2 linked regions of the Homo sapiens genome follow. Each later gene encodes a partner of the first gene's protein in a complex. Links are inferred from orthologs where the notes say so. Each region holds a gene or a part of one and is shown on either strand. Other genes may lie near its edges.

Evidence for each region.
Region 2: the proteins of MYO6 (region 1) and GIPC1 are in contact, whole or in part, in a crystal structure (PDB 5V6E), measured with the Mus musculus proteins. The link is inferred for Homo sapiens from one-to-one orthologs. Residues at the interface, in NP_001034635.2 of Mus musculus: Ser1055, Lys1056, Trp1057, Lys1058, Tyr1059, Ala1060, Arg1084, Arg1085, Leu1086, Val1088, Tyr1089, Trp1092, Lys1093, Asn1096; in NP_061241.1 of Mus musculus: Glu273, Ser274, Tyr275, Met276, Gly277, Ile278, Arg279, Asp280, Glu282, Leu283, Thr286, Asp310, Phe311, Ala312, Pro314, Glu316.

Annotation. Positions count from the first base shown.
Region 1 is NC_000006.12:75,747,282-75,750,881, forward strand, and holds the start of MYO6 (unconventional myosin-VI), read left to right. Parts: upstream 1-1,957; 5' UTR 1,958-2,142; intron 2,143-3,600. UniProt on the Homo sapiens protein: Myosins are actin-based motor molecules with ATPase activity. Unconventional myosins serve in intracellular movements. Myosin 6 is a reverse-direction motor protein that moves towards the minus-end of actin filaments.
Region 2 is NC_000019.10:14,489,316-14,493,434, forward strand, and holds part of GIPC1 (PDZ domain-containing protein GIPC1), read right to left. Parts: intron 3,602-4,119; exon of another isoform or gene 3,598-3,601; 5' UTR 3,542-3,597; intron 2,429-3,541; 5' UTR 2,341-2,428; intron 1-2,340. UniProt on the Homo sapiens protein: May be involved in G protein-linked signaling.

The sequences.
Region 1 (3,600 bases):
ACCCTGGGAGACAGAGGGAGACTCTTTCTCAAAAAAAAAAAAAAAAAAAAAAAAGAGGAAAAAAGGAAATCCCCATTATGTTAGGCAAACAAAAACAGCCAGTTTGTGACTGGTGGCTAAATCAAGAAGGATCTTACAAGACATTTTAAGTGGTTTGGACTTTATATCAAGAGTCAGAGAGTGCCATTACAGAAATTTAAATAGTGGAGTACATAAAAGACAAACTGATGACGTTGTAAAGACTGGATTAGAAGGGGATAAAACTGCGGCCTGGGAAACTGGTTAGGTGACTTAGGCAGTATGCAAGATTTGAAATGATAGTGGCCTGAAACAAGATAGTGGTAGTGGGTATAAAGAGGAATTTGATACATTAGAGAGATATTATAGAGCCAGAAGCAAAAGCACTCAGTAATGGATTGGAAGTGTGGGGCAAAGGAGAGAAAACAATCACGAAAGTCATTAGCTACAAAAAAATCTTTAAAATGTATTGATTTATCTAGGTGTGGTGACTCACACTTGTAATCCCAGCACTTTGGGAGGCCAAGGGAGGGGGGCGGGCAGGGATTGCTTGAGGCCAAGAGTTCAAGACCAGCCTGGGCAACATAGCAAGCCCCTGTGTTTACCAACAACAAAAAAATTAAGAAAATTAAAAAAATGTATTGACTTCTATTGGTTTGCCAAATGAAGTTTAGTATTAAATCCAAAATTGAGTCAGAGCAGTGTGAACTGAGACAGCCATCTTCATCTTCTCCCTCTTTTTTTCAGTTTGTTTTGAAATTTAGTTTTATATACTTAAGACTTACCTTCTGGCAATTTGGAATTAAATTTCTGAGATTGCTGTAAATTATTTCCTTTCTTTGTTTCTCTTCCTCTTTCTTACTTCCCTATTTTACTCTTAATATTTTATTGTTTTAGTTGAATTCTAAAACATCTTATCAGAACTTAGAGTTTTTATTTCTCCACCCACAGAACCATGGAGTCTTTAAGTATCAGAAATTTGTCTCCTCGTCAGAATCTTCTAGATTTCCAGAAGTTTCCAAGTCGCTACATATAAATGTTGCAGAAAAACGTGTAATTCTCATGTGCAAGTAGGCTTTTTTCAGCGGATACATTTAGCATTATAGTCAATTGTTATTTCGTTGCCTTAAAAGAAGCTGTTTTCATTGTAAAGGTGATGTGTTTTTACCATATAATTCAAATTTGCATAGGTACTTCATATTTTAAAAGGTGACTCACAGGTATGTCACTAATAAAAACAGTAACATTTAAACGACTGAGAAGGTAGGGGCTCTAAATAAAGTAAATGCGTCGGCGAGGGTAGGAGCGGGAAGAGGCAAAGGGGTGCGAAATTCCCATCCCAAGCCCCCTCCTCCAAAGACCGAATGGCAACTTAGTTGTGCGGGAAGGTTCCCCCCTATGCAGGGCAGCCCAGTCCAAGCCGGCCCGATCCGGGGCCGAGTGAGCAGTGGTTCTTGCCGCAACCGCCACGCAGCCTCGCTGCCGCCCAAGCGCGGACACCTGGTTCCTGGGTCCCCCGCGCGGAGCCCCGGACTCCTCGCCCCTTCTCCGAACAACTTTCTCCCTGCTTGAACTGATTCTCGCTGTTGGTAGACTGCACAGTCACAGTATCCAGCCGGACAGGACCTGCTTTGCCGGGACTGGAAACAACTACCGCGGCAAAAGAGGCCGTTTCGCCATGGGAAGAACAAGAACTCCCGGCTTGTCCAGGGGCAGCCCCTCTCTGCGCTGCAGGGCGCCTACCCTCGCCCCAGAGGCTCTGCGCCGCGGGCGGGGCGACCCCGGGGGTCGCGCGCCCTCTCCCGGAGCGCGCCCTCCCTCCCGGAGCGCGCGCCCGACGGCCTGCCGCGGCCCCGGCGCCCCCGCCCCTTCGGGCGCTCCGTAGCCGTGACGTGCACGCCGCAGTGCCGGGGACTCGGCGGGGCGCCGGCCGGCGGGCGGAGACCGACTCGGGATCTGTCCGAGCAGGAAGCCAGCCTCAGCCCGGCCGCTGTCGCCGCCCTGTCCTGGTGCCCGTCCGCGTCGTCGCCCTCTTCACTGGCCCTCATCACTTCTCACCGCGCCCTCCAGCTTCACCCGTACAGGTAGCCCCGCCGCCGCGCACCTGCCTTCGCTCCCGCACCGGTGAGTGTCCCAGAGACCCACTGCGGGGCGTCGGCGCCGGGGTCTCGCGTTCCCTGGCCCGGCCTTGCTCCCGGGCCTCCTCGAGCAGCTCCGGGGCCGACGCTTCTGTTCACTGCCCGAGGACGCGGGTGGGAGAAGCAGGTGATGGATGGGTGGGCCCTGGGCAGCAGTGGGGCCGGCGGTGGTTCTCGTTTCCACCGAAAGACAATCAGTCTCCTTTCATGGGTTCTCATCACCAAGGTCCCTTTGTGTTTCTTCCCTGGCTCCCAGGTAGAAGCAGAGCACTCAGGTGCCTAACTCGGACTTGGACACTCCGTGATAGTTTTATTTTCTCTTTTGTAAACACGCTTAAAATTCAGTGCAGGGGGAGCGCAGTTTGCTCTGAGATGTGAAGATCAAATGATACCATTAATAGTCTAATCATGTAGGAGACCAGATCGAGACTTTCTAAAGCCTTATTCTTAGTCTCCAGGTGGTCCAGTACCTTGAGTATGTTAATTTACGGATATGCTACTGAACAAGAACTTTTTTTGTTAATTTCCAAAAACTCCCTAAAACGATTAAAATGCTTAAACTCTGGGATTTTAATTTTAAGTAGGACACAATTTGATGGGGTTATTGCTAGAACATCCGTGTTTAAAAGTATTTCCATACAGTTTAAAAAATTCATTACCTTTTTTTTTTTTTTTTGAGACGGAGCCTTGGTCTGTCGCCCAGGCTGGAGTGCGGTGGTGCGATTTCCTCTCACTGCACCCTCCCCCTCGCGGGTTCAAGCAATTCTCTGCCACAGCCTCCCGAGTAGCTGGGATTACAAGCGCCCACCACCACGCCTGGCTAATTTTTTTGTATTTTTAGTAGAGACGGGGTTTCACCATCTTGGCCAGGCAGGTCTTGAAATCCTGACCTCTTGATCCATCCGCCTCGGTCTCCCAAAGTGCTGGGATTACAGGCGTGAGCCACTGCGCCTGGCCAAATATTCTTTACATCTTACCTGGCATAAAGTGATGTGGTGGAGGGATGCTTAAATCCTGATTTACAAGTATTAGTGAGAAATGAGGAGCACTGCCCTAACTTAATAGACTTAACTGTACGGGCTAAATAAGCCTCATTTTTTTTTTTTTTTTAATGCTCTGGTGGTATAGATGCAGTCTATCTAAATAAAGTCAGAACTTGAGAGTTTTAAAAATTAACTTTTTTTTTTTTGAGACAGAGCCTCGCTCTGTCAGCTCACTGCAACCTCCACCTCCCAGGTTCGAACGATTGACCTCCCTCAGCCGCCCGAGTGGCTGGGACTACAGTAAGGGCGCGCCACTGCCCAGCTAATTTTTGTATTTTTAGCAGAGACGGGGATTCGCCATGTTGGCCAGGCTGGTCTCGAACTCCTGACCTCAGGTGATCCACTCGCCTCGGCCTCCCAAAGTGCTAGGATTACAGGCTTGAGCCCCCGCGCCTGGCCTG
Region 2 (4,119 bases), on another chromosome or scaffold:
GCCTACCGCGGTAGCGTGAGGGAAGCCGTGCGTTCTGTTCCAAGGCATCTGTGAGCCCATGGAGTATACACCATGAGCAAAGCTCACCCTCCTGAGTTGAAAAAATTTACGGACAAGAAGTTTTCATTGAAATTAAATGGTGGCAGACATGTCCAAGGAATATTGCGGGGATTTGATCCCTTTATGAACCTTGTGATAGATGAATGTGTGGAGATGGCGACTAGTGGACAACAGAAAAATATTGGAATGGTGGAAATACGAGGAAATAGTATCATCATGTTAGAAGCCTTGGAATGAGTATAAATAATGGCTGTTCAGCAGAGAAACCCATGTCCTCTCTCCATAGGGCCTGTTTTACTATGATGTAAAAATTAGGTCATGTACATTTTCATATTAGACTTTTTGTTAAATAAACTTTTGTAATAGTCAAAAATGTTTTTTCAGATGTTCTGAATATACAATATTAGCTCTCATTCCAATTTTTTCTAACATGAATTTTCCTGGTTGACATTGATTTCAAAGGGTTTTATGTATTAAAGTGACAGAATCTTATTAAATGTGAAACATGGCAAGGAGAAAAAAAAAAAAAAAGAAACTCATGCTAAAATTTGATCCCCAAAGTGGTGGTGCGGTGTTGGGAGGTGGGGCCTAGTGGGAGGTGTCTGTGTTATGGGGCCAGATCTCTCCTGAATGGCTTGAAGTAGCTCTGGAAGCAATGAGTGCTTGCTCTCAAGAGCCCGGATTAGTTCTCCAGAACTTACAGTAGTTGGCCAGGTGCAGTGGCTCACACCTGTAATCCCTGCACTTTGGGAGGCCGAGGCGGGCGGATCACGAGGTCAGCAGTTCAAGACCAGCCTGGCCAACATGGTGAAACCCCGTCTCTACTAAAATTACAAAAAATTAGGCCAGGCACGGTGGTGGGCACCTGTAATCCCAGCTACTGGGGAGGCTGAGGCAGGAGAATTGCTTGAACCTGGGAGGTGGAGGTTGCGGTGAATCAAGACCGTGCCATTGCACTCCAGCCTGGGCAACAGAGAGAGACTCAGTCTCAAAAAGAAAAAAAAGAAAATACATTAGTTAGGCCAGGAACGGTGGTTCACGCCTGTAATCCCAGCACTTTGGGAGGCAGAGGCAGGCGGATCACCTGAGGTCGAGAGTTCGAGACTGGCCTGACCAACATGGAGAAACCCCATCTCTACTAAAAATACAAAATTAGCTGGGTGTAGTGGCACATGCCTGTAATCCCAGCTACTAGGGAGGCTGAGGCAGGAGAATCGCTTGAACCTGGGAGGCAGAGGTTGAGGTGAGCTGAGACAGTGCCATTGCACTCCAGCCTGGGCAATAAGAGCGAAATTCTGTCTCAAAAAGAAAAAAAAGGCCAGGTGTGGTGGCTCACGCCTGTAATCCCAGCACTTTGGGAGTCCAAGGCGGGTGGATCACGAGGTCAGGAGATCGAGACCATCCTGGCTAACACAGTGAAACCCCGTCTCTACTAAAAATACAAAAAAAATTAGCTGGGCGTGGTGGCACACACCTGTAGTCCCAGCTACTCGGGAGGCTGAGGCAGGAGAATGGCGTGAACTCGGGAGGCGGAGCTTGCAGTGAGCCGAGATCATGCCACTGCACTCTAGCCTGGGTGACAGAGCGAGACTCCATCTCAAAAAAAAAAAAAAAGAAAGAAAGAAAGAAAGAAAATACATTAGTTAGGCCGGGTGCAGGGACGGTGGCTCCCGCCTGTAATCCCAACACTTTGGGAGGCCGAGGCGGGTGGATCACCTGAGGTCAGGAGTTTGAGACCAGCCTGGCCAACATGGTGTGAGCCAAAGAAGGCTGGTGTGAGCCACTGCGCTCAGCCTATATTTTCTTATGTAAAAGGGACTTCCTGGTGCCTCCTATCCAATGGTCTCTTCCAGGGGGCCATGCTGGATTCAGCTTGGCCGCATCCAATCTTTTTTTTTTTTGAGATGAACTCTCACTCTGTCACCCAGGCTGGAGTGCAATGGCGCGATCTCGGCTCACTGCAACCTCCACCTCCCAGGTTCAAGCGATTCTCCTGCCTCAGCCTCCTGAGTAGCTGGGATTACAGGTGCGTGCCACCACACCTGGCTAATTTTTGTATTTTTAGTAGAGATGGGGTTTCTCCATGTTGACCAGGCTGGTCTGGAACTCCTGACCTCAGGTGATTCGCCCACCTTGGCCTCCCAGAGTGCTGGGATTAGAGGTGTGAGCCACTGCACCCAGCCTGCACCTAGTCTCATGTATCCATTTGTTCATGCATCCATTCGTCTGTCCCCTAACACACCCTCTCATCTCACCTGGTCCATCTCCATGATCACTTACCTAAACTAGTGTGGTTGCCTCCTGTGGGTTTCCCAGCTTCCACCCTCACCCCCTACGACTTCTTGTCCAGACAGCAGCCAGAATGGTCCTGTAAAACATAAGTCATGTCGCATTTGTCTCTGCTCTGACCCCTCCCCGGGCTCTGACCTCGCTGGAAAGAAAAATCAGTGTCGGCCGGGTGTGGTGGCTCTCGCCTGTAATCCTAACACTCCGGGAGGCCGAGGTGGGCATGAGCCACCACGCCCAGCCATATATTTTCAAAATTAGCCAGGCGTGGTGGCGGGCGCCTGCAGTCCCAGCTACTCGGAAGGCTGAGGCAGGAGAATGGCATGAACCCGGGAGGTGGAGTTTGCAGTGAGCCAAGATCGTGCCACTGCACTCCAGCCTGGGTGACAGAGTGAGGCTCCATCTCAAAAAAAAGAAAAAAGAAAAGACCCCTCATCATCCCTCCAATTCCGCCAGCTCTACGCACTGGGAGGCAGGAAACTAAAAACATGAATCTGGAACCTGGCTTCATCTCTTAATAGCTGTGTGACTTTGGGCAAGGGTCTTAACCTCTCTGAGCTCCAAGGAAATCATGCATGTGCTTGGAACAGTCCTGGCACACAATAAGGGTTGCATAAATATTGGTGACAATTACTGCTACTGCCATCTTTTGTTTTTTTTTTTGAGACGGAGTCTCGCTCTGTTGCCCAGGCTGGAGTGCAGTGGCACGATCTCAGCTCACTGCAAGCTCTGCTTCCCGGGTTCACGCCATTCTCCTGCCTCAGCCTCCCGAGTAGCTGGGACTACAGGTGCCCGCCACCATGCCCAGCTAATTGTTTGTATTTTTAGTAGAGACGCTGTTTCATCATGTTAGCCAGGATGGTCTCGATCCCCTGACCTCGTGATCCACCTGCCTCGGCCTCCCAAAGTGCTGGGATTATAGGCGTGAGCCACTGCACCCGGCCTTGCTACTGCCATCTGTACCAAGATTCAAGCTTCCTCCTTTTCCCAAGATCCCTACATCCTGACCACCAATTCCCAGCCTCCTTACTCTCTCTCTCTGCCCACCCCACTGCCCTGGTTCATGCCAGCTTCCGTGTCCCCACCCGTGAGGAGGCATTAACAGCAGTGAGGAAAGTGAGTGAGTAATGAATCTGCCTGCCACGGCCATAAGAGGCTTCGTGGCCTGGGTTCAAATCCCACCCCTGCCACTTACCAGCTGTGTGGCTGGGGGGCAAGTCACTTCACATCACAGGGCCTCAGTTTCTTCATCTGAAAAATGGGTGGAATTCCTGTCACTCTCAAGGTGGTTGTGGAAATCCAAAGAGATTACCCACGTATCCCATCTACACTCTGCCTCAGACTCCATTTAAGGACGCTGTTGTCATTACTATGGGTGTCTCCTCCTCTGCCCTGCCCTGCCCAGGAATATCCCAACCCTCTCTGCCTGCCAATACCTACTCCAGGCCCACTCCTCCATGAAGCCTCCCAGGCTTGCCCCAGCATGCTGGAACTGCCCCTGTGGTACAGATGGCTCAGGCCCATGAACTTAATTGCATGCTGCCCTGGCAGAACTCTTGTCTTCCAGCTTCAGGCTGTCATTTAACTTCATGTCTCTATTTTAAAACGTAAACCAGATGGCATCACTGCCCTGCCTGAAACTTTACAACAGTTTCCCACCTTCTGGAAGAAAAACTGCAATCTCCTTACTGTGACCCACAAACCCCTGCAGAATCGCTGCTCTGGGTTCATCTTCTGCTCCAACCATGTGATTCCAAACTTGGTCCAGCCTAA